Linked DNA regions of Homo sapiens: region 1 is linked to region 2. The links come from fine-mapping of genetic effects on gene expression. Tissue or cell type: whole blood. Region 2 holds a variant in brackets; the other region holds the start of a gene. All regions are shown on one strand. Distances are from middle to middle.

Region 1 (5,227 bases), 70 kb after region 2:
CATAATTCAGAACCTAGTTCCTCTAGAGCTTTGCCCGACCTAACTCCTAATCAGACACTAATAGAACTCAACAATTCCATCTGGATGCCTACACTCACTTCTATTTCATTTCCAGAAATTCACAGGATAAATGTAAATATCTAACTGTATTTTAGCAATTCCTCTCTAGTCCCCACTTCTAAGTACCACAAAGTAAATTAGGCTGAAGGGAAATTAACTCAATATAATTTGACGATTAAGGTTAGTCATTATGGTTTTTGTACTTCTATTTAAAAGAAAGGAATAGCTCCACAAGCCATCTTTAATTTTAGAAAATATACGGTAAAATTACTAATTCCACAAAGTATAAAATAAATACCTAAATGAGCCTTCATCACCATCCATCTGATTTCACCACTTGTAAATTTCAAACATTTTCAATACTGATATTGGGTTCAAAACTGACTCCCTCCAGAACTTAAACTATTAAACTCCTGAGAGTCTTCAAATGGCGTACTCCACTTTGCCAAACCAGACTACTTTATTATAATTATCATTCCATCATCTCAAAGTGGGAACGATGACACCTGCATCACAAAGACAGTGTGAGGATTAGGCAGTAAAAGCATGTTAGCACCGTGTAGAGCGCTCTAGAAGTTTTAATTGATTTACAGCAGAAATTATGCCTCCTGGGAACTATGTGAAAAGCAGAGGCAAGGGGAGAGCTGCGGGTAGCTACACGTCAATACCCAGGAACACAGGCTGGTGATGGGGGGAGGGAAGACAGTTAACAACCTCCTGAGGAGTCCTTACAGCCTCTTCTCAGACCCATAGCAGCAGAAACCCACACTGCAGGACTCCCACCTCGGACTGACTAAGTTACTTGCAAGTATATGTAAATCTCATCTCCTTGGAAAAATGCTAAATAATAAAACTGCCAACGTGCAGACCCAGGCGCTCATTTCCCTGCCAGTGTAGCTCATGTACCTCTGGGATGTGCAAGCCGAAACACGTGTGCACGTCTGAGCGGCTGAACCAACATGTATCCATAAACATTATGAATAATACTCGCGAGAATGTACGGCTTTCTCCTAAGTAGCGCTTGAAGCACTTTACCCAAATCAAGTCCCTTTTGTATCACTCCTTCCCTGCCTTTCCTACCTATCACTCTCGTGCTGAAAGTTGGAGCTCCTTACCCAAAGACTGGGCGGAAAGGGTGACCGCCCTGGACCCCTGCCCGACTTCCCGTTAGGCCAAGCCGCTGTCCTGAAAGGGGATCGTGTCCAGGCCGGCTTCCTGGAGACACACCTGCGCCTGCACACACCCACCGCGGTCGCGTCACCAGTGCCGCGGCCACGTGGACGAAGACCAAAGTCTGGAGGGAATTCCCTCAGCCACAAAGCGATGGGAAAGCGGGACCCGGGTGAGTTTTGAAAAACATAAGGGGAACGGGGGTTGGGTGGACACAAAGGGAAGGGGTCACCGCTACTCACCCAACCCTCGAAGGTGTCCGAGGCGCCGGTCGTGCGCAGCAGCTCCTGGAACTGCAGGGTGCAGTTGGCCACGAAGTGGTCGTAGCCCAGGGGCGTCTCGTGGAAGACGGCCAACTCGAGGTGGCCGCCGTCGGTGACGTTAGCGCAAAACTCCTCGTTGTACGTGGGTTTGTTGGTCTTCTGCTTGGTGCTGGTCTGGCCCACGCGCACCTGGTCCACGCTCACCGTCAGATAGGGGTCCAGCAGCTGGTGGCCCTTCTTGAAGAGCGAGTGGCGCAGGGACCAGCGGGTGGGCTGCAGCCCCACTGCCTCACCGATGCGGACCCTCAAATAGCCATTGAACTTCATGGTGCCAGACGACATGCCGGCGCCGCTGCCCCGGCCCCGGGGGGCCGCGCTGCTTCGCAGCGGGAGAACCGGGAGTCCCGTCTCAGGCCAGCCCTCGGGACAGGTGCAGGAGTCGAGGCAGCCCTGGGGAAAGGCAGCGCCTAAGCGCCCCTCGACTGGCCATTCTGCCTCCTCCGTGGGACTTTTCCCTCCCCTCCTTCCCTCCCTCCCGAGGTGGAAAGGAGGGGAGCCCGCCGCCGAGCCCTCAGCGGGCCGGGGAAGCCCGACCGTCCCTTCCAAGCGCGCGGCGCCTCCCGGGGACTCGCGCAGGACTCGCCCCTTCTCCAGGGCCGGGCAGCTCCTCTCCCTGGAGAGCCGGACCTACCCGTCCGGTGAGCCCCAGCCCCAAGCGTCTCTTCCCCCGCCTCCTCTTGCTTCTCCTCCTGCCCCCGCCTCCGAAGGCTCACGCTCTCCCCCACTCGGCGAGCTTCAAACCAGGAAGCAGCTGCCGCCGCCGCATCCCCGGCGAGAACCTCGCACCGCCAGGTTCCAAGTTCACAGAACCCCCGCGTCCGCTCCCGCGCCTTCCGGACCCCAGGGGCGTGGCCCGCGGTCCGCGGCCCGGCCCTGCGGTGGGTGGATCCCCGCGCAAGCCCCCGGGAGGCCAGTGCCCGCTTGCGCCGCCCTGCGCGCCCTCCTTGTAGCGCTGGGTCTGGCCGTGCGCTGCGGGTTAGGGGCCACCCCGGGCGCAGGCCAAAAAGGAAAGGGTTCGTGGCCCAGCCCGAGCAAACACCTGAGGCGTGGTAGACTGACCTGGGGAGCGATGGAAGGTTGGGAGGACGCAGAGGAGGGCGCTCCAGCCAGGAACCCGCGCGGCGAGGAGTCGCCCGCCCCCTCTCTCCCAACCTCCCCGGTGGGCTGGTGACCCTGCAGGGCCATCCCCAAGAGGCCCTGGCCGGAGGCGGGGGCACGGCGGGGAGGTTCTTTTTCCTAATATTTACAGGGATGGCTCATCCCGGGGTCAGCTCGAACGCATCCTGTTTGTGCGCCTTTCCTGCAGAGGCTAATTACACAGTTGTGTGTATGTGTGTGTTTTAATAGGGCAGTAGTAATGATGGAAATCCTGTTCGCCTCCTTCCTCGGAAGGTGTGTCTTGTTGCACATAGAGCAGGAAAGGTCGGTTCTTCTGGAGACAGACATGGCCAAGAGGTAATAAGTCTCTTCCTCTGCGGGTGGTTTCTGGTCCACCCAGCTCTGCGCGGCAAGGGCAGAAAATGTTCACACACACAGGCTGTCCCCAACACACACGCGGAAGAAATTGCCTCTTCTAGGAACACTCCAGCTTGTTGTATTTGCAGTCAGAGTGGGCAGCCTTCTGATGCTTCCCACCCCGTGGTCCCTGCAGATTTTGTCTCCGGGGAGGACCTTTTAGCCTACGCTGCTATGCCGCAAAGCTTGCTCCCTGAGGGCCAGCCACAACCAATTTGTTCCCCAAAAAGCCTAGGCCACTTTTTGTTGTTGTTGTTGTTGTTGTTTTTGAGACGGAGTTTCGCTTTTGTTGCCCAGGCTGGAGTGCAATGGCGCCATCTCGGCTCACCGCAACCTCCGCCTCCCAGGTTCGAGCGATTCACCTGCCCCAGCCTCCCGAGTAGCTGGAATTACAGGCATGCGCCACCACGCCCGGCTAATTTTGTATTTTTAGTAGAGACAGGGTTTCTCCATGTTGGTCAGGCTGGTCTCAAACTCCCGACCTCAAGTGATTCGCCTGCCTCGGCCTCCCAAAGTGCTGAGATTACAGGCGTGAGCCACAGCACCCAGCCAAGCCTAGGCCACTCTTAAGATACTTGATTACATTCTGTCTTGCTATACTGGTTCCCTCGGAGCAGATTCGGCTTGCTTTCATTCCTTTCTTTCTTCCTTCCCTCCTTTCTTTCTTTTATGTTTTAGAGACTGGGTTTTGCTTTGTCATCCAGGCTGGAATACAGCGGTGTGATCATGGCTTACCATAACCTCCAGCTCCCAGGTTCAAGTGATCTTCCAGCCCCTGCCTCCTAAAGTGTTAAGATTACAGGCATGAGCCCCCGTGCCTGGCCCCAGGTTCATCTTTCTAGCCCCCACTCCTCTAAGGCCCTGTTCAGAACTTTCTAATTGAGTAGGTTCTCAACGATTTCACATGAGTGCAAGGAGGCCTGACCCGTAATAACAGCACTATACAGAATGAAAACAAGTAAGGACAATGGGCCAGGGGGGAAAGGGCCTGTCTTGAAAACACCAAAGCTTCCTTAGAGAACAAGGCAGGGATGCAACGCATCACTCTAATGACATCTTAGCTTTAGGCAGGGCTTGTAAAGCCTGCTCCCAAACGTCCAGGGGGCTCCTGTTTGGCCTTAGTGCTCCAGGGGAAGATGTCGCATCTACCCTGTGGGTCAGCTCTGTCACCCTTTCCTCCAAACAGCTGAACTCTAGCTTTAAGAGCCACTAAAGGATTTGCTCCTGTTGGACTTTGGGGCTAAAAGAAAACAGTCCCCATACAGAATCATGGGGTGTAGACTTTAAATTTTTTTTTAAATTTTAAAAAGAAAACAGTCCCCAAATGGTAGGTGGCCACACAGCTGTCCTGGGACTGGGATATGACGATACCAGACACTCCATCTTCACCCTATCAGTACCTATCAGGATTGGCAATGGTGACAGAGCAGTGGGTCAGACAGCCATGGTGCCTGCCCTCCTGGGGCTTACAGTCCCACAAGGAGGAAAAACAACTAATAGAAGAGGGTGCAGTGAAGGAAAAGCCCACGGTGCCAAGGGGTGATGTATTATAACTGGATGGGTGGTCAGGGAAGGGTTCCTTGAAAAAGCAAATAGCAGAGAGATCAGCTCATTGAGAGCTCCTGAGGAGACAGATGGGTTGGCCTGTTTGGGAACCAAAAGCACCCTACGTGGCTGGAGCTGAGGAAGGCGTGGCTGGAGCTGAGGAAGGTGAGGGGAGAGTGGCTGAAATGAGCTTGCAAAGGTGGTCACACTGACCAGACTGGTAGATCACAGGAAAGCCTTGGACATTATCTATGGGCCACTGGACGCCTCTGAAGGCTGTTAAGCAGAGCCAGGGTAAGATGAGGATTTGTGTTTTAAAATACCTCTCTGGGGACAGGCAAGGTGGCTCACACCTATAAACCCAACACTTTGGGAGGCTGAGGCAGGAGTACTGCTTGAGCCCAGGAGTTCAAGACCAGCCTTGGCAACATGGCAAGACTGTCTCTACAAAAAATAAAAACTAAAAAAATTAGCTGGATGTGGTGGCATGTGCCTGTAGTCCCATTTTATTTTTTTAGTAAAATAAAATATCTCTCTCGGGGGTGGATTGGAAGAAGCAGCACGAGTGTGGGGAGACCAGTTTATGAAGCTGTTGCCAAAGTCCAGAGGTGAGA
Region 2 (5,227 bases):
GGGAAACCGCATTAGGTGAGACCCACATTTGTAGGGCTTTTCTCCAGATTATTCCCCAGGTTGTGCAGGATTGGGTAAATAGAACTCAATATGGAACCACAGTTTTATTGGCTTGAAGGCAGAATTGACAAAATTCAAGCCTACCAGATGACTGGATATTGAGGGGAGAAAACCTGGAAAGATGGGGCCACAGAAAGAAGAACCTCCACATATGTAAACTCTTCAAGCCCTCACATCTTCCTAAACTGTGCATGTGCAAGGGAAACTCTAAGAGGTCCAGACAGGAGCAAGAGCTAGGATGCTGAAAGATAGGAACTGAGATTTCAGCTGTTTCCCACCCATAGGAGAAAGAGTTAGAAGCTTGAGTGACATAAAATTAATGGGCTTAAAACACCTTGGGATTTCTACTGAAACCTCACACTGGCTATGCCTTACGAGCAAAGACCATGTCCACGGACTACAGAATTGACTAATTTGACTACAGATGGGTTTAAAGATACTCAAGATTGTTAAGATGTTAATTCCCCTCAAACTGATCTATAGATCCAACACAATTTCAATTCAAAATACAGCAGGATTTTGTCTGGAAATATATAAGCTGACTCTAAAACTGATATCAAATTGCAAAATACTGAGAATAGCTAAAATAACCTTAAACATACAAAAAAGAACGGAGTTGGAGGGCTCATACTATGTAACCATAAGACTCACTATAAAGCAACAGTAATGAGACAGTGTAATACTGGCATAATGTAGAGAAAAGAAAGAGAGATCAGATGGACAAACAGATCAACAGGACAGAACAGATAATCCAGAAACAGACCCACATTATATGGTCAATTGATTTTCAACAAAGGTTCCAGGGTGATTCAAGGGGCCAGGGGAGACTTTTAATAAATGGTGCTAGAACAACTGCATTCGTGTATTGAAAAAAAATGTTTCAACTCCTCTGTAACATCACACACAAATATCAATTTAAGAAGGCATACAGACCTAAACATAAAACCTAAAACTATTTGCTTCTTAAAAAAAAAAAACAAAAAAAGAAACAGGAGAATATCTTAGTGATCCTATGACAGAGAGATCTCTGAAGACATAAAACATATGAACTACAAAAGATGAGATTAACAAATTGAACTTCATAGAAATTTAAAACTTTTGCTCAAAGACACCATTAAGAAAATGAAAAGGCAAGCCACAGACTGGGAAAAAGTAATCACAATACCTATTTCTCACAAAGGACTCATATCCAGAAAACAAAGAACTCCTCTAAATCAATAATAGAAAGACAAATCCAATTTTAGAAAACAGGACAAAAGACTGGAACTGGAAATTATCAAATAAACAAACAAATGACCAATAAGCATGTGAGAAAGTACTCACCATCAGGGAAATGCAAATTTACCCACAGGATATAATTTCATACCCACTAGAATGTCTACGATGAAAAGCAATGGCCATAGAAAGTGTTAATGAGGATATGAAGTAATTGGAACTCTCATGCATTGCTGGTGGGAGTATAATAAAACCACTTTGGAAACCATCTGGAAGTTTCTTCTGAAGTTACACACACACCTACTTTATTACCCAGCAATTCCACTCCTATATAATTATCCAAGATAAATGAAAGTGTTATGTCCAGAAAAATTTATGTGTAAGAAGGTTAATAAAAGCATTATTCATAATAGACAACAATAGGAAAAACCCCAAAAGTCCACCAAGAGGAGAATGGGTAAACAAATGGATGCTACATTTATATAATGGGATACTACTACTCAGAAATAAAATGAAAAAAATACTGATATACACAATGATATGAATCTTCTAAAAACTATGCTGAGTGAAAGAAACCAGACATAAAAGAGAATATACTGTATAATTCCATGTATATGAACTTCTAGGGTAGGTAAAACTAACCTGTGGTGAAATAAAGCACTTTACTTATTGCCTCTGGGAGCAGGGGATTGAAAAAGGGTACAGGGAAATGTTCACAATAATGGAAATGTCCTGTATCTTGGATTGGGGTGCTGGTTATGCAGTTGTATGCATTTGTCAAAATTCAAATTGTTCACTTCTGATCTATCATTTCACCCCCATATAAATTTTACCTCAAGTAAAAAAAATATTGGATGGGGGAGTAGGGAGTACGGTAGCCACAGATGAAGAACAGAATCCCTTACAGGTCACAAATGAGATAGAGATTATAAAGAAGATAACTGGATCCCTAAATTTCTTTCATAGACATTCACAGGCAAACTAAAAGATGGCACAAAACCAAAGACGTAGAGTTCCACAGTCATGAACCAAAAAGACGCAAAAACCATTCAGCTACGATGACACTGGCTAAAAACAAAAACTCATTGAGTGTGTTAAATGAAACGTGAGATTGCCAGATTTAGCAAATATATTTAATTTGGCAACCTGAACCAATAGACCACTGGGCAACAAAATACTAGCCAGCCCAACTTATGAAAGTGATTTTTTAAGCATCTCTTACAACATGCTCTTTTTTATAATGTCCATGATAGAAATTCCTACTGAGTGTAAACCAAGATTACATGTATTCTGGAAACTACCCAAAACTCATTCTTACCTTCAGTGAAACTCCCGGTAAGGGTTATTACCACAAATACTTTCCCCTCTGGCTCGAGATCCACCTACAAAGAGAAAAAAAAATGTATATTATATGTTAGTTTTAAAATATTTTTGTGGGCCTTAAACAATTCATCACAGAGAGGCCTAATGTGTAAATCACAGCCACAAATCAAATAAATCTAAGTCTTTCATTAAATAGTAGAGTGGCAGGGAAACAAGTGAAAGCTCAAAAAACTGTAAAGACTGAAAAGAAAC[C/T]ACATTTTATCAGTTTCCTTCCTCTTGAATTTTATTCTCTCCCATTTTTGGCTTGTCATAATATAGACAGGCACATCCACATACTTGGTAATTGTTTTTGAGACCTCCATATCTTATGCATATGGCTTATAAGAGCAGCATTTTACTAAACCACATGGCAAGAATATGAAATAGAGAAATAACGGCAACATACAAGGTAATGAACACATGTGGCTTGGTCAACTGCAAATCTTTAGTTTTATGGAGTAAAAAGTATAAAGAGTCTCTGCTACATATTTCCACCAAAGTCTGGTCAATCTTAAGGAAGCACTAGGGAAGGAAGTTTAGGAGCCTTGCATTCACTACTCTTTTTTTTTTGAGAGAGAGAGGTAGTTTCACTTTGTTGCCCAGGCTGGAGTGCAGTGGCATGATCTCAGCTCACTGCAACCTCCATCTCCTAGGTTCAAGCAATTCTGCCTCAGTCTCCTGAGTAGCTGGGATTACAGGCGTGTGCCACCACATCTGATCTGTTTTTGTATTTTTTAGTAGAGATGGGGTTTCACCATGTTGGCCAGGCTGGTCTCGAACTCCTGACTTCAAATGATCCTCCCGCCTCAGCCTCCCAAAGTGCTGGGATTACAGGCGTGAGACACTGTGTCGGACTGCTACTCTTAATTAGTCACGGGAGTATCAACATACCTTGAAGTTACCTATCAGCTGAAATATCAAGACATGCATTCTGCAAGCAATGCAGCTTGAAGTCTTTTCATATGGTGTCGTCCTCTGCATATAGTCCAGTTTCCGAAAGACCCCATACAGCATGGCGCCCAGGATGAACAGCACCTCTGGCTCTGTTCTGATCACCACTAGCTTAGGTGGGCGGACTCCCCTCTTCCTACCGGATGCTAACTTCACTATCCATGAACACCTCTAAGCCTTGCATTGTGAGGCTCTTGTGGACTCAAATACATGAATTTACAATTGTCCTTAAATAAATCTTTTCAGATTCTGCCCATGGCTCCATTTTTATTTTATTTTTCTCTTTCTTTGGCTGTGGCTCCATTTCTGCCTTTGACCTTTCATCTGAAGAGGAAGACTGGCATATAGAGAAGTTTCACTAGAGATACGAATGACCATTTTTGGTCAAATATTAAATTTAAAATAAGCTGCAAATAGTCACATGGTACAGTGGAAAGAGCCCCCCTACTAGACCAGGCCAAGAACTCTAGTCTGATTCTGTCACAGCTGGTTCTGGACCCTGGGCAAGGTCCTTTACCACACTGAGCCTCACTCTTCCAATCTGAAAAGTCTATGGCATCATTATTTAGCATTTTTTCTCTTTTTTTTTTTTTTTGAGACAGGGTCTCACTGTCTCCCAGGCTGGAGTGCAGTGGCACAATCATAGCTCACTGCAGCCTTGAACTCCCAGCCTCAAGCGATTCTCCTGCCTCAGCCTCCCAAGTAGCTAGGACTATAGGCATGTGCCACCATAACCAGCTTGCCTGCTTATCTAGGTATGTATGTATGTATGTAGAGACAAGGTCTCACTATGTTGCCCAGTCTCAAACTCTTAGGCTCAAGCAATCCTCCCACCTCAGCCTCTCAAGTCACTGGGATTACAAGTGTGAGTCACTGTGCCTGGCATTGGCCTAGCGTTTCTAACACAGCCTCCACATATGATCTCAAAGATTTTTTTTTTTTTTAAGACAGAGTCTCCCTCTGTCACCCAGGCTGGACTTCAATGCTGCAATCATGACTCACTGTAGCCTCGACCACCTGGGTTCAAGTGATTTTCCTGCCTCAGCCCCCCAAGTAGCTGGGACCACAGGCACATGCCATCATGCCTGGCTTAGAGAGGCATGTTGCCCAGACTGGTCTTGAACTCCTGAGACCAGGCAATCCGCCCGCCTTGGCCTCCCAGAGTGCTGGGATTACAGGCGAGAGCCACCATGCCCAGCCAATCTCAAAGATTCTTAACAGTACTGTTTACTTTTTTAAAATTTATTGTATCTACCCATGACAAAGCCCCCAAAAATGCACTGGACTTACCCTAGGTCACCACCACACCCTGATTATATACTTTTTCAAAATAAAAGATGCCTGCTTTGTTCAGATTCAGAAAGCTTAACCTGTATAACAACCTATTCTTACAACCCACCCTTTCTCTGCATAAAACCTGTTACCAATGTGGTTACCACACTATAAATCACCTCCCTGTTCAAATCAGCTACTTGCATCATGACTACTGTTAACAATATCCTCTTAACTATCTTAATACCACTTGTGAACCTTTATAGAACAGCTCTGAAAATAGAGCTCTCTAGAGAGATGACTAAACAGGATATCAGCCTCTAATTGTCTCCACTCTCTGCCTTGACTTGTTTCAAGTCAAAAATAC

What was found. PIP is the estimated chance that this variant, and not a neighbour inherited with it, causes the effect.
Region 1: PRKCH starts here. The variant in region 2 is fine-mapped to the expression of PRKCH in whole blood (TOPMed, PIP 0.99).

Annotation. Positions count from the first base shown.
Region 1 is chr14:61,318,710-61,323,936 of GRCh38, reverse strand. PRKCH (protein kinase C eta) reads right to left here and starts at 2,358. Exons shown (of 14, transcript NM_006255.5): 1 at 1,473-2,358. The coding sequence starts at 1,835. PRKCH-AS1 (PRKCH antisense RNA 1) reads left to right here and starts at 1,119. Exons shown (of 5, transcript NR_186042.1): 1 at 1,119-1,402. RefSeq lists enhancers at 926-1,469, 1,470-2,014 and silencers at 1,976-2,145, 2,296-2,565, 5,192-5,227.
Region 2 is chr14:61,388,655-61,393,881 of GRCh38, reverse strand. It overlaps PRKCH (protein kinase C eta), which reads right to left. Exons shown (of 14, transcript NM_006255.5): 2 at 2,594-2,657. Among named protein-coding and RNA genes, the nearest start is that of PRKCH-AS1, 68 kb to the right of the region's middle. RefSeq lists an enhancer at 5,008-5,227. The variant C/T (reference allele first, on the strand shown) is at 2,851.